2 separate regions of the Homo sapiens genome follow, and region 2 is linked to region 1. Evidence: fine-mapped expression QTL. Tissue or cell type: whole blood. Region 1 holds a variant in brackets; the other region holds the start of a gene. All regions are shown on one strand. Distances are from middle to middle.

Evidence for each region.
Region 2: ACP6 starts here. The variant in region 1 is fine-mapped to the expression of ACP6 in whole blood (TOPMed, PIP above 0.99).

The regions. Positions count from the first base shown.
Region 1 is chr1:147,646,291-147,651,664 of GRCh38, reverse strand. ACP6 (acid phosphatase 6, lysophosphatidic) reads left to right here. Exons shown (of 10, transcript NM_016361.5): 8 at 1,427-1,522; 9 at 3,254-3,419; 10 at 4,099-5,374. The coding sequence ends at 4,242. Among named protein-coding and RNA genes, the nearest start is that of ACP6, 22 kb to the left of the region's middle. The variant C/T (reference allele first, on the strand shown) is at 2,467.
Region 2 is chr1:147,668,258-147,673,631 of GRCh38, reverse strand. ACP6 (acid phosphatase 6, lysophosphatidic) reads left to right here and starts at 3,108. Exons shown (of 10, transcript NM_016361.5): 1 at 3,108-3,802. The coding sequence starts at 3,584. RefSeq lists enhancers at 2,646-2,715, 3,156-3,405, 4,046-4,105, 3,317-4,260.

The sequences.
Region 1 (5,374 bases):
GTGTCCACTTCTGTGCAAGCCTAGGGCATCTAGAAGGTTCCTGCCAAGCCACACAGCTTGCTGCCACTCCCTGGGACTTGCCAGCTTCCCTTTTCTGCTTGTGAAGGGGTGCCACCATACCTAAATTGTTACTTACTTCCCTCTCCTTTATCAACACACACACACATATTTAGTAAATATTTTAAGCTGTCAGGATCATGCAATTTCTGTTACAACTACTCATCTCTGCCCTTGTAACATGAAGCAACCAAAGACAATATGCAAACAAATAGACATGGCTGTGTGCCAGTAAAATTTGTTTACCAAAACTGGTCAGATTTGGCCTATGGTATAGTTTGCTTTATTCTGGTGTAAATCATTTTAAACAGGACCTTGTCTATTCCATTCCAATTAGCCCTGGTTTTGTAAAACTAACATTTCTTCAAGGACAAATGGTTACAACCTCACAAGGCCATCCAACTTGGCTTTGCCTGTATACATTCTTCTGAAAAGTATGTGTTGCATACAGTGTTGGTTGCCTGCTCTTCATCCATTGCTGCAACATTCCTTGACTTATAAAGATGGTCATTTACCCAATCACCACAAATAAGGATTTGTCTAAGCCAATCATGGCAACCTTGTTTTCATTTGTCAGTGGCTGGGTTCTGGGAATTCTAGGAGGGGTGTTTTTTTCTCTTTGATAAAAAGTGAGAAGCACAAAAACAAGGAGAAGACCAGTCTCTGAAGTCTCCATGGAAGCTGATCAGCTGCTAGGATGAGTAGATGAGAAACATTTCTTTCTTCTATAGTAAGTGGACTTTGTTCACTACTGTGAGTGAACATGCTTTAAGCTGCAGTAGTCACCTGTGGCCATGATGTGACAGGCCTGAGAATGAAAGTGGTGGAGCCACACAGCCAAGCCTGGGAGCACGACCACTGAACTTCTTCTGTAAAATAAATAAGACATAAATAAGAAATGTCTTTATGGCCCAAACTCCAAAAGAAGGAAGGCTGGCACATAGGAAACAAAATTAAGGATGTTCTTGTTCCTTCTGATTATTTTTCTAAGGGCCTTCTAGAATTCCTGGAAATTATTACCCCTTCTTCTTCCCAGCTTGTCAGCTTTGTTCTTTGATTCCCCAAGGCCTAGTTGGTCACGGCTTATCCAGGTTACCACTCTCCTGCTCCCTCAGCCCCTCCCATCTCAGTTGTGTTCACAACAGGTCTGTGTGCTGGTGCCTGTGTTGTTGGGAGTCTTCATTCACAGAGGACCCCAAGACCGGACTCGGTGCCATTTCTCTCCTTCTGGCCCGTTGCTGGCCCTTATGCATTACTTGCCTTTTTCTCAGCTCTGTCTGGACTCATGAGGTCCTGGGGGCAGAATCAGTCTGTGTCCCCTGAATGCTGAGTGCCCTCTAGGTGCTTAAATGTTGTTCACTTTTCACAGGGAAAGTCTTCAGATGGCAGTAGGCCCATTCCTCCACATCCTAGAGAGCAACCTGCTGAAAGCCATGGACTCTGCCACTGCCCCCGACAAGATCAGGTACCTGGCACAGCAACTCTGCTTTGTGCAGCTAAGGGCCGTGGGAACTTCTGGCTGTAGGGAGGGAACCCAAATCTTAGTGAGGCAAGAACCAGGCTGTCAGTGACCGAAGGTAGATGTTTAACAGGCCTCAAGTGTCAAAGAGGTTCACAATCTTTTAACCTTTCTTCCTGCTGCACCCCTCCTACCATGTTTTGAAAATTTTATTTTTGCTTTCTCTCTCTCTTTTTTTTATTAATTGAAGATATGTCAAACAGTAGCCAATTATGATGTCACACTGATTTGATATGATAATAGTCCAAAACAAAGATAAATTGCTTAATGGATTGTGTAGTTTGAACCACTTTCATTGAGTGTAAAGAAGGTATGATATCCATAAGGCATTTAAAAATATTGGAAGTGGCCAGGTGCAGTGGCTCACGCCTGTAATCCCAGCACTTTGGGAGGCCAAGGTGAGTGGATCACGAGGTCAGGAGATTGAAAACATCCTGGCCAACATGGTGAAACCCTGCTCTACTAAAAATACAAAAATTATCCGGGCATGGTGGCACGCACCTTTAGTCTCAGCTACTCGGGAGGTTGAGTCAGGAGAGTTGCTTGAACCCAGGAGGCGGAGGTTGCAGTTAGCCAAGATCACACCACTGTACTCCAGCCTGGTGACAGAGCCAGGCTCTGTCTCAAAAAAAAAAAATGTTGGAAGTAGCTCATGAGCCTCCATTGCCACTTTTGGAGCCTTGAATCCAAGGTTGGGACTACGGCTGTGGAATATTATGTGTCCTAGGCACTTGCTAAGTGCGTTCTGCAGGAAAACAGCTTCACCGTTGCCCAAGAACTCATCAGGTTCTCAGGCTCCAGCCTGATCTACTAAATCAGCATCTGCAGTTTAACAAGATCCCCAGGTGATTGATAGTCACCTGAATTTTGGAGAAGCACTGTTGTGGTAT[C/T]ACAGCTAGAAACTCATGATGGCGTAAGAGGAATAGGAGACAGTGAGTTGAAACAGGAACTTTGGGCCAAGATTTGTAATAGCAAATCTTGTGAATACCATTTCCTGTCCTTCACAGTACCTGCAATGACAGTACATTTTTTCTGGCTTTTGCCACCTTGCCACCTTCTGCCTTGGATCTTTAGAACACCACAGGATCCAATGCTAGTCTTCTAGGATGGGGGTCCATAAATAAAATCCTTGGTCTTTCCTAAGAGATGGATACTGGTGTCAGGCAGATGTAGATTAAAATGGCATTCTTATTACAGATTAAAGCCATTTGGAGAATGTGCTGAGGGCCAAATGGGCTTGTGAATATTATTTTGAAATAAACTTAATACCCCAAAACTTCAAGCTTCCCCAACAAGGAGCCCTACTAAACTCATCCCATGGCTGAGAGTAGGAAGGGCATTCATGTAGGCTGGCAGGACCCAAAGAGAGAAGAGAGGTAGGGTCTAAGCCACACACGCTCAGTTTCTTCTTTGAAACTCACCAGGGAGGAGTGAGTAGGTGGCAAGGAGGAGGCCAGGAGAATTTCTCTGGCGGGGACCCTCCTCATGAAGACACGGGGAGTGGGAACAAGGGTTCTTCCCACGATCTACTGCAAAGGACTTTTATACCAGGCTCAGCTGATTTCTAGATGTCACCTAGTTTCTGAGGCAAGTGTGTCTTACGTAAAGGAGGCAGGCCACATCCTGACCTTCAGAGTCCTGAGGCAGAGAATTGTGGAGAGCTGTTTCCTCTTGCAGAAAGCTGTATCTCTATGCGGCTCATGATGTGACCTTCATACCGCTCTTAATGACCCTGGGGATTTTTGACCACAAATGGCCACCGTTTGCTGTTGACCTGACCATGGAACTTTACCAGCACCTGGAATCTAAGGAGTGGTTTGTGCAGCTCTATTACCACGGGAAGGTAATACCCCTGAGGTGGGGTTGGGTGGTGGTGAGGCACCCTCCTGCAAAACCCACCTACCTGAGTTAGCACCAAGTCTCCCTCCTCAGGCCCAGTGGAGTCTCTCTTGGCACAGTCAGCTCTCTGAATCCTATAGGGCAACTCCTGGCTATGGCCCAGGGGTCAGGCAGAACTTGACAGATGGTGGCAGGATGGGGCTTGAGCCTTATCCCAGTTCTGTTACAGACTCCTAGGAACAGGGTCCCCCTCCTCTTCTCCTGAGCGTCCCTGTCAGGATGTCGCCTCCTGGCTGTGAGACCTGTTTTGGAGATTGTTGGTGGTATCTTTGGGAGGTGATGTGTGCTGCTGTTAGCACCCGTGGTGTTGGCTGCTTCATCAGGGCTGGGGTCCAGGGCAGAGGCCAGAGCACGCCCCAGGGATGAGCCTGTTGGTTCTCCCAGCTCGGGGATGTAACTCGACTCTTTCTTCCCAGTCAATTCAACACTTTTTGAGTGACTTTTACAAGCAGAGCATAGTGCTTTTATTCTGGAAGCTCACCGGGTAGTGGGGCCTTCCTGTCTGTAATATGTATGCACATGTATACCACATGGATCAGAGCCTCTCAGATCTCTGGGCTTAGCTGGAAATAGCAGAAGGACAGGTTCCTCGGCGGACCTGCTGAGTTATGTTTCTTCTGCAGGAGCAGGTGCCGAGAGGTTGCCCTGATGGGCTCTGCCCGCTGGACATGTTCTTGAATGCCATGTCAGTTTATACCTTAAGCCCAGAAAAATACCACGCACTCTGCTCTCAAACTCAGGTGATGGAAGTTGGAAATGAAGAGTAACTGATTTATAAAAGCAGGATGTGTTGATTTTAAAATAAAGTGCCTTTATACAATGCCTCCTGCTTTGTGTGTTTGGGAAGAGGAGAGAGCAAGGGGTAATGTACTTTAATATAATGTAAGGATATTTCCTTTCTGTGGGTTTACTAAGATTTCTTCCTGAACGGAAAAGGGGTATAATATTGAGACCAAAAGGATATTTCTCTATTTTGTGAGTTGGTTTCTAAGGTTAGAAGCATCTTTGTGTGACACGGGCTGGGGACATCATGACCCTGTAGAATTGTGTCGGTTTTGGACTTTAGTTCTTTTCTCCTATATTAATTTCACATGTATTGAGCTACCTACTAAGTAGTGATCATTATAAAGGTGAAAACACTCTGCCCTCAAGTTGTTGCAGTCCAGTGGGAGAGGCAGCCGAGTAAATCAGTGATACAGTGCTGTATGTTTTATGCTGTAATAGGTATTTGAGGGGCTATTTGGGTATAGAGAAGAAACTTCCTGCTCACATGGCAGGGGATGTGGGGAACAGTCAAGGAAGGCTTCTGAAAAAGTCCTGGCCTGATCTGAGTAGAGAAAGGTGGGTAGGAGTTAACCAGGAAAGCAAGGATGAAAGCGTGTTGCGTTTAGATAAAGGATAGGCTTCAAGGTCAGGGAACGTTGCTGGGTGGTGAGATGGAACCCTGATGTGGAGGCTCAGCAGGAAGAAGCAGGAAGGACACTGGGCCCCTGGTGGTTTTAGTTCCAGAAACAAATGTGGGCCCCAGGGCTCTGCAATGGTAAGGCTGGAACTACTCAACATAAGAGCTCCACCTTTAACTGTGCCCCCTAAGAGTACCTGATGATCCCCCTATCTCCTTGTCAATGTTGCTGTTCTTCTCCAGAATCTATTTCAACCCTTCTCTGATTTCAAACCACCAGTCCCTTTACCTCTCAGAGAAAACAGCAACCACAAAAGCCTCTCCACTTCCTACTATCTTAATATTGACAACTTCCAGATCAGGGAGCTGAGATATCTCAAGCTCAGGTTTCTCTTCTGAGCTTCAGACACTTTTATCCACTTGGATTTCACTGGCACAAAACTTTCCATGTTAGAATCAAACCCCCCTCCTCCCAGACCTGCTTCTCCCACACACTT
Region 2 (5,374 bases), 22 kb before region 1:
AATGTGAATGTGGTTGTTTCTTATCTAATCTCATTATTAAAACTGAGTTTTTACATAATATTAAATGCAATCCTCTGAAGACAATTTGGCTGGGAAAGGGCTTATTTCCCGAGCCATCCCTGCCTGGTAGTTTAAAACCAGGGTCAAAATAACAGCTACTCAGTGTTCCCCTGCTTCCTGCAACCACCCTAACACCCCCACCCACACGGTCCTACCCTGGGTCAGGACTTCCAGTCTCTCTCTTTCTCTCTCTCTCTCTCTCTCTCTTTTTTTTTTTTTTTTTTTTTTTGAGATGGAATCTCACTTTGCCGCCCAGGCTGGAGGGCAGTGGTGCAATCTCGGCTCACTACAACCTCTGCCCCCAGGTTCAAGCGATTCTCCTGCCTCAGCCTCTCGAGTAGCTGGGATTACAGATGTGTGCCACCACACCCGGCTAATTTTTGTATTTTTGGTAGAGACAGCGTTTCACCATGTTGCCCAGGATGGTTTCAAACTCCTGACCTCAGGTGATCTGCCTGCTTTAGCCTCCCAAAGTGCTGGGATTACAGGCGTGAGCCACCGCGCCCGGCCCAGCCTCTTTTAAATTGCAGCTCACTGCCACTACTATCACACACAAAATACATCTGGACTCCCCATGGTTTGTCTCACATGTGTTGACAAACAGTGCTTTTAACAACCACATGAAATCAGCTATTTTCCACCCTCACTCTGGTTTCTTTTGGAGATCTGCTGCTAAGTTGTTCCCCACACTTCCCCACACTCCCCCTCCAACAGGACACATGAGCCCTGACAGGACCATTGCTGTATTAGTCCGTTTTCACACTGCTATAAAGATACTACAATTTATAAACAAAGGAGTAAATTTACTCACAGTTCTGCATGGCTGAGGACAGGGGGAGGCCTCAGGAAACTTATAATCATGGCAGAAGGGGAAGCAGGCACCTTTTTCACAAGTTGGCAGACCAGAGAGGAGAAAGAAGGAGGAATTTCCAAAAACTTATAAAACCATCAGATCTCCTGTGTGGAGAGAGAGATCCTTCTTTCTCTTCTTATAAAGCCATCAATCCTACTGGATTAGGACCTCACATTTATATCTTCACTTAACCAAAATTGCTACTGGAAAGGGGTCCTGATCCAGACTCCAAGAGAGAGTTCTTGGACCTCGGGCAAGAAAGAATTTGGGGCGAGTCCATAAAGTGAAAGCAAGTTTATTAGAGAAAAAGAGAAACAAAAGAATGGCTACTCCATAGACAGAGCAGGGGCATGGGCTGCTCAACTGAAAATACTTATGGTTATTTCTTAATTATATGCCAAACAAGGGGTGGATTATTCATGAATTTTCTGGGAAAGGAGTGGGATTTCCTGGAACTGAGGGTTCCTCCCCACTTTAGGCCATATAGGGTAACTGCTGGCCCCGACATTCGTAAATTGTCATAGTGCTGATGGGAGTGTCTTTTAGCATGCTAATGCATTATAATTAACGTAAAATGAGCAGTGAGTTTGACCATAGGTCACTTCCATCAACATCTTGCATTTGGTTGGTGTTGGCCAGCTTCTTTACCACTTCCTGTTTTATCAGCAGGGTCTTTTTGACTGGTTTCTTGTGATACCAGTCCTGCTGACCTCCCCCCTCATCCTGTGACTGAGAATGCCTAACCTCCTGGGAATGCAGCCCAGTAGGTCTCAGCCTCATTTTACCCAGCCGCTATTCAAGATGGAGTCACTATGGTTCAAATGCCTCTGACAGAATCACCTTCTAAAAGTCCTATGTCCAAATGCAGTCACTTAGTGGGTACGAATTTGGCGGGGGACACAACTGAGTCCATAGCAAACAGTATTCGATTTTTAATCACATCAGCACACACAATAAGACTCTGAAAAGTGAGTCCCTTGGCTGGGCTAGGGAGAAAATTGTGACAATATGTAGTGTTCCAAAATGACCCTCCTCCCTGCATCAGGGAGGGGAGCACTCAGAACCTTCCAGCTTGGTGAACAGAATTTGTTCTCAGGCCAGGAGCCATGCTCTGTAAGTATGTTGTCTTTACATCTGGCCCAGTTTGATCTTTGGAGATAGACACATAGTGGGTCCCAGATTGTGTCCTGTTGCAAAGATCTGGAAACACAGGCTTGGGATACCTGTATATCAACAGAAACCAGACTAGCAGGTGGTAAGGCTGGCATTGTTCTGTGTTCTTAGGTTTTTTTTTGTTTTTTTTTTGTAGACGGAGTCTTGCGCTGTTGCCCAAGCTGGAGTCGTGTGGCGCGATCTCGGCTCACTGCAAGCTCCGCCTCCCGGGTTCACGCCATTCTCCTGCCTCAGCCTCCTGAGTAGCTGGGACTACAGGTGCCCGCCACCACGCCTGGCTAATTTTTTTTTTTTTTTTTTTTTGTATTTTTAGTAGAGACGTGGTTTCACCGTGTTAGCCAGGATGGTCTCGATCTCCTGACCTCATGATCTACCCGCCTCGGCCTCCCAAAGTGCTGGGATTACAGGCGTGAGCCATGGCGCCTCTTAGGTTCTTAATCACTGGGACACCCACAGGCAAGGCCTGGCTTTTTCCACAAGAAGTATTCTGGATGGAAGTAAACACATCAGTGACCTGAAAGTTCTACATGATTACAATGACTTAAGCTTGAGAATTTTTTTAAAAACAGAGAAGGGAGTAGTAAATGACTAAATATAAAGCACCTAGTGCTGTGTTTCGCAAATGGCAATCACTCGGCAGGTGTCTCAGCTCCTCGCTGCAGCAACCAGGCTTCCAGGACTGGAAGGAAGTCTTCTACATTCAAAACTAGACTCAAACTACTCCCCTCCACCACCCAGTTCTACTCCTGCGCTCGCGATCCTCCTGCCTGGCAAACTCCATGGCCCGACAGATTCACTACCACTCCACTGCCGGACCAGGCACGTCCGTGGGCCATCCACGCCTGGAAAACGGCTGGCTGGGCCGGAGGGGCGAGGCCCGCAGGCGAGGGGGGCGGGTACAAGCCACTTCTTGGGAGCCGCGGTACGCGCAGCCTTGTGGGAGTTGTAGTTTCCGCAGCTCTGAGTCTCCAGGCGAGGTGTCACCACAGGACTCGTTTTCCCGTGCTCCTGTGCGCGGGTCCACTTGGGACGGGTCCCTGAGTAGGTGAGGAGGTGGGTAGGAGCTTGCTTATAGAAAAGTGGAATCGAGTAGTCCTTGCTGGTGGAGCCGCTGCCGCCAGGGAACTCAGGGCCGGCTCCTGTTCCTTCAAGAGTGCTGGAGGCCAAACTTGAAATACAAGTTTAATGTTCCTCGTCGGGCAAAAGATAAGGATCCGATCTCCCCCGGCCCGGTGTGCAGCAGGAGCGACCAACCCCGACCCGGGTTAAAACTCCCAGGGACTCTTCGCTGCTGCCACCTCTTGTTCTCTCCCCCGTTCCCACTCGGGGTCTCCCTCAGGGCCGGGAGGCACAGCGGTCCCTGCTTGCTGAAGGGCTGGATGTACGCATCCGCAGGTTCCCGCGGACTTGGGGGCGCCCGCTGAGCCCCGGCGCCCGCAGAAGACTTGTGTTTGCCTCCTGCAGCCTCAACCCGGAGGGCAGCGAGGGCCTACCACCATGATCACTGGTGTGTTCAGCATGCGCTTGTGGACCCCAGTGGGCGTCCTGACCTCGCTGGCGTACTGCCTGCACCAGCGGCGGGTGGCCCTGGCCGAGCTGCAGGAGGCCGATGGCCAGTGTCCGGTCGACCGCAGCCTGCTGAAGTTGAAAATGGTGCAGGTCGTGTTTCGACACGGGGCTCGGAGTCCTCTCAAGCCGCTCCCGCTGGAGGAGCAGGTGAGAGGTCGGCCCGGGCTGGGGCTGGTGGGGCGAGGACCGTGTGCCAGGCCAGGAGTCTCGCCCTGACACACATCTTCAGAGCTTTACTCGCGCGGAGCGGGGCTCGGGTTGGGTCCAGAAGAAGGGAAAACAGCAGTAGCCAGTGACTCCCCAGGCTCTTGAGCAAAGGACCTGCTGGGGTTAGGACAGCCCCGGAACTTCCAGTTTTGCCCTGATGGCGCAGCCATCAGTAAGCGCTGCTTAAGACGCATGGGAGTCGCCTGGGGATCCTGCTACGTTGCAGATTCTGATTCAGCAGGTGTGGAGTAGTGCCCCAGGTCAGCATTTCTATTAAGGGTCTAGGTGAACTTGAATACAAGGGTGCAGTGCACTTCTGTGTGACCATTTTGAAGGTGGTTTGTCAGAGCTGAAGGGCTGAAGGGACTTTAGTGATAGGAACCACTCTTAACTGAGATTACAGTGGATAAGAGGTCGTTGCCTTTGGAAACAAACTTTATAACTGCTTTTTCTCAGGGTTTGCTGGAGGCCATTTGAGATCTCCTGAAGTTTTTTTTTGTAACAAGTGTTGTATTCTAGGGTTCTCCTTTTCTATTTAAGGTTACTAAACCTATAGTGGGAGGGATCTGAGGTCGGAACAAATTTAAAATGGGCTAGTCTGTGGCAGTAATGTTTTAAAAATCTGTCTGGTTTTGTCAGGATAATTATGACTAAAGCACAAATAGTTTAAAAAAAAATGATTATCTTTCCTGGATGTGACTTTTTATAGCAGAAAGGCCTAGTGAAGAGGAACAGGCAACCTGAAATCCCCAAACTCCCAGGTATTACACCTGTGGAGTGCTTTTGTATCGTTGGTCTTCCAGGTTGATGTTGGAGGAGGTCGAAAAGATTGTCCAAAATTGATGTTAGGTATACTCTTCATAATAACAGTTGCTTTCTAGAAACCTTCAGGATTGTGTCTTTACATTGTACAACTGGAAACCCATTTTTCAAGGTTGGCCGCACATGAAATTAAACTTCTAAAGCATTTTCCACATAAATAAATACATTTGGAAGGCACTTAATTCTATTACCAGGTTTCTAGTTAGCCTTACTCTGGCTTTACCACTTGCTCTCTGGAACCGGGATTTCTTCTTTCATTTTGATTCTTTGATTTTTTTTTCAGTCTCTTACTTTGCCTTTTTATATTAGATCACTAAATTTTCCTTATGATTTTGTATACAGCCCATCTCTGATGCTCCCCTTCCCCCAATTCTTCTCTATTTATTCTTGGTACAGAAGGACTGGGGAATCACATGTAGGAATATATATTATATTCACGTAGAAGACAAAAAATTATCAGTGGTAATGGAGAGTAAAACTTTGAATGTGTAGGCCTAGACCTAGTATGTACCATATATATATATATATATATCCTGAAGGCACTAGGAAAAGATTTAGATTCTTTTAGGGCTTTATCCCTAAGGGAGAGTGGGTGTGTGATGGATATCTTCTGCCTTTATGGTTGAAAGGTCCGTTGTAGCTTAGGATACCAGCTTCATTCATCTTCAATCTGTGTAGCCACAAAATAGC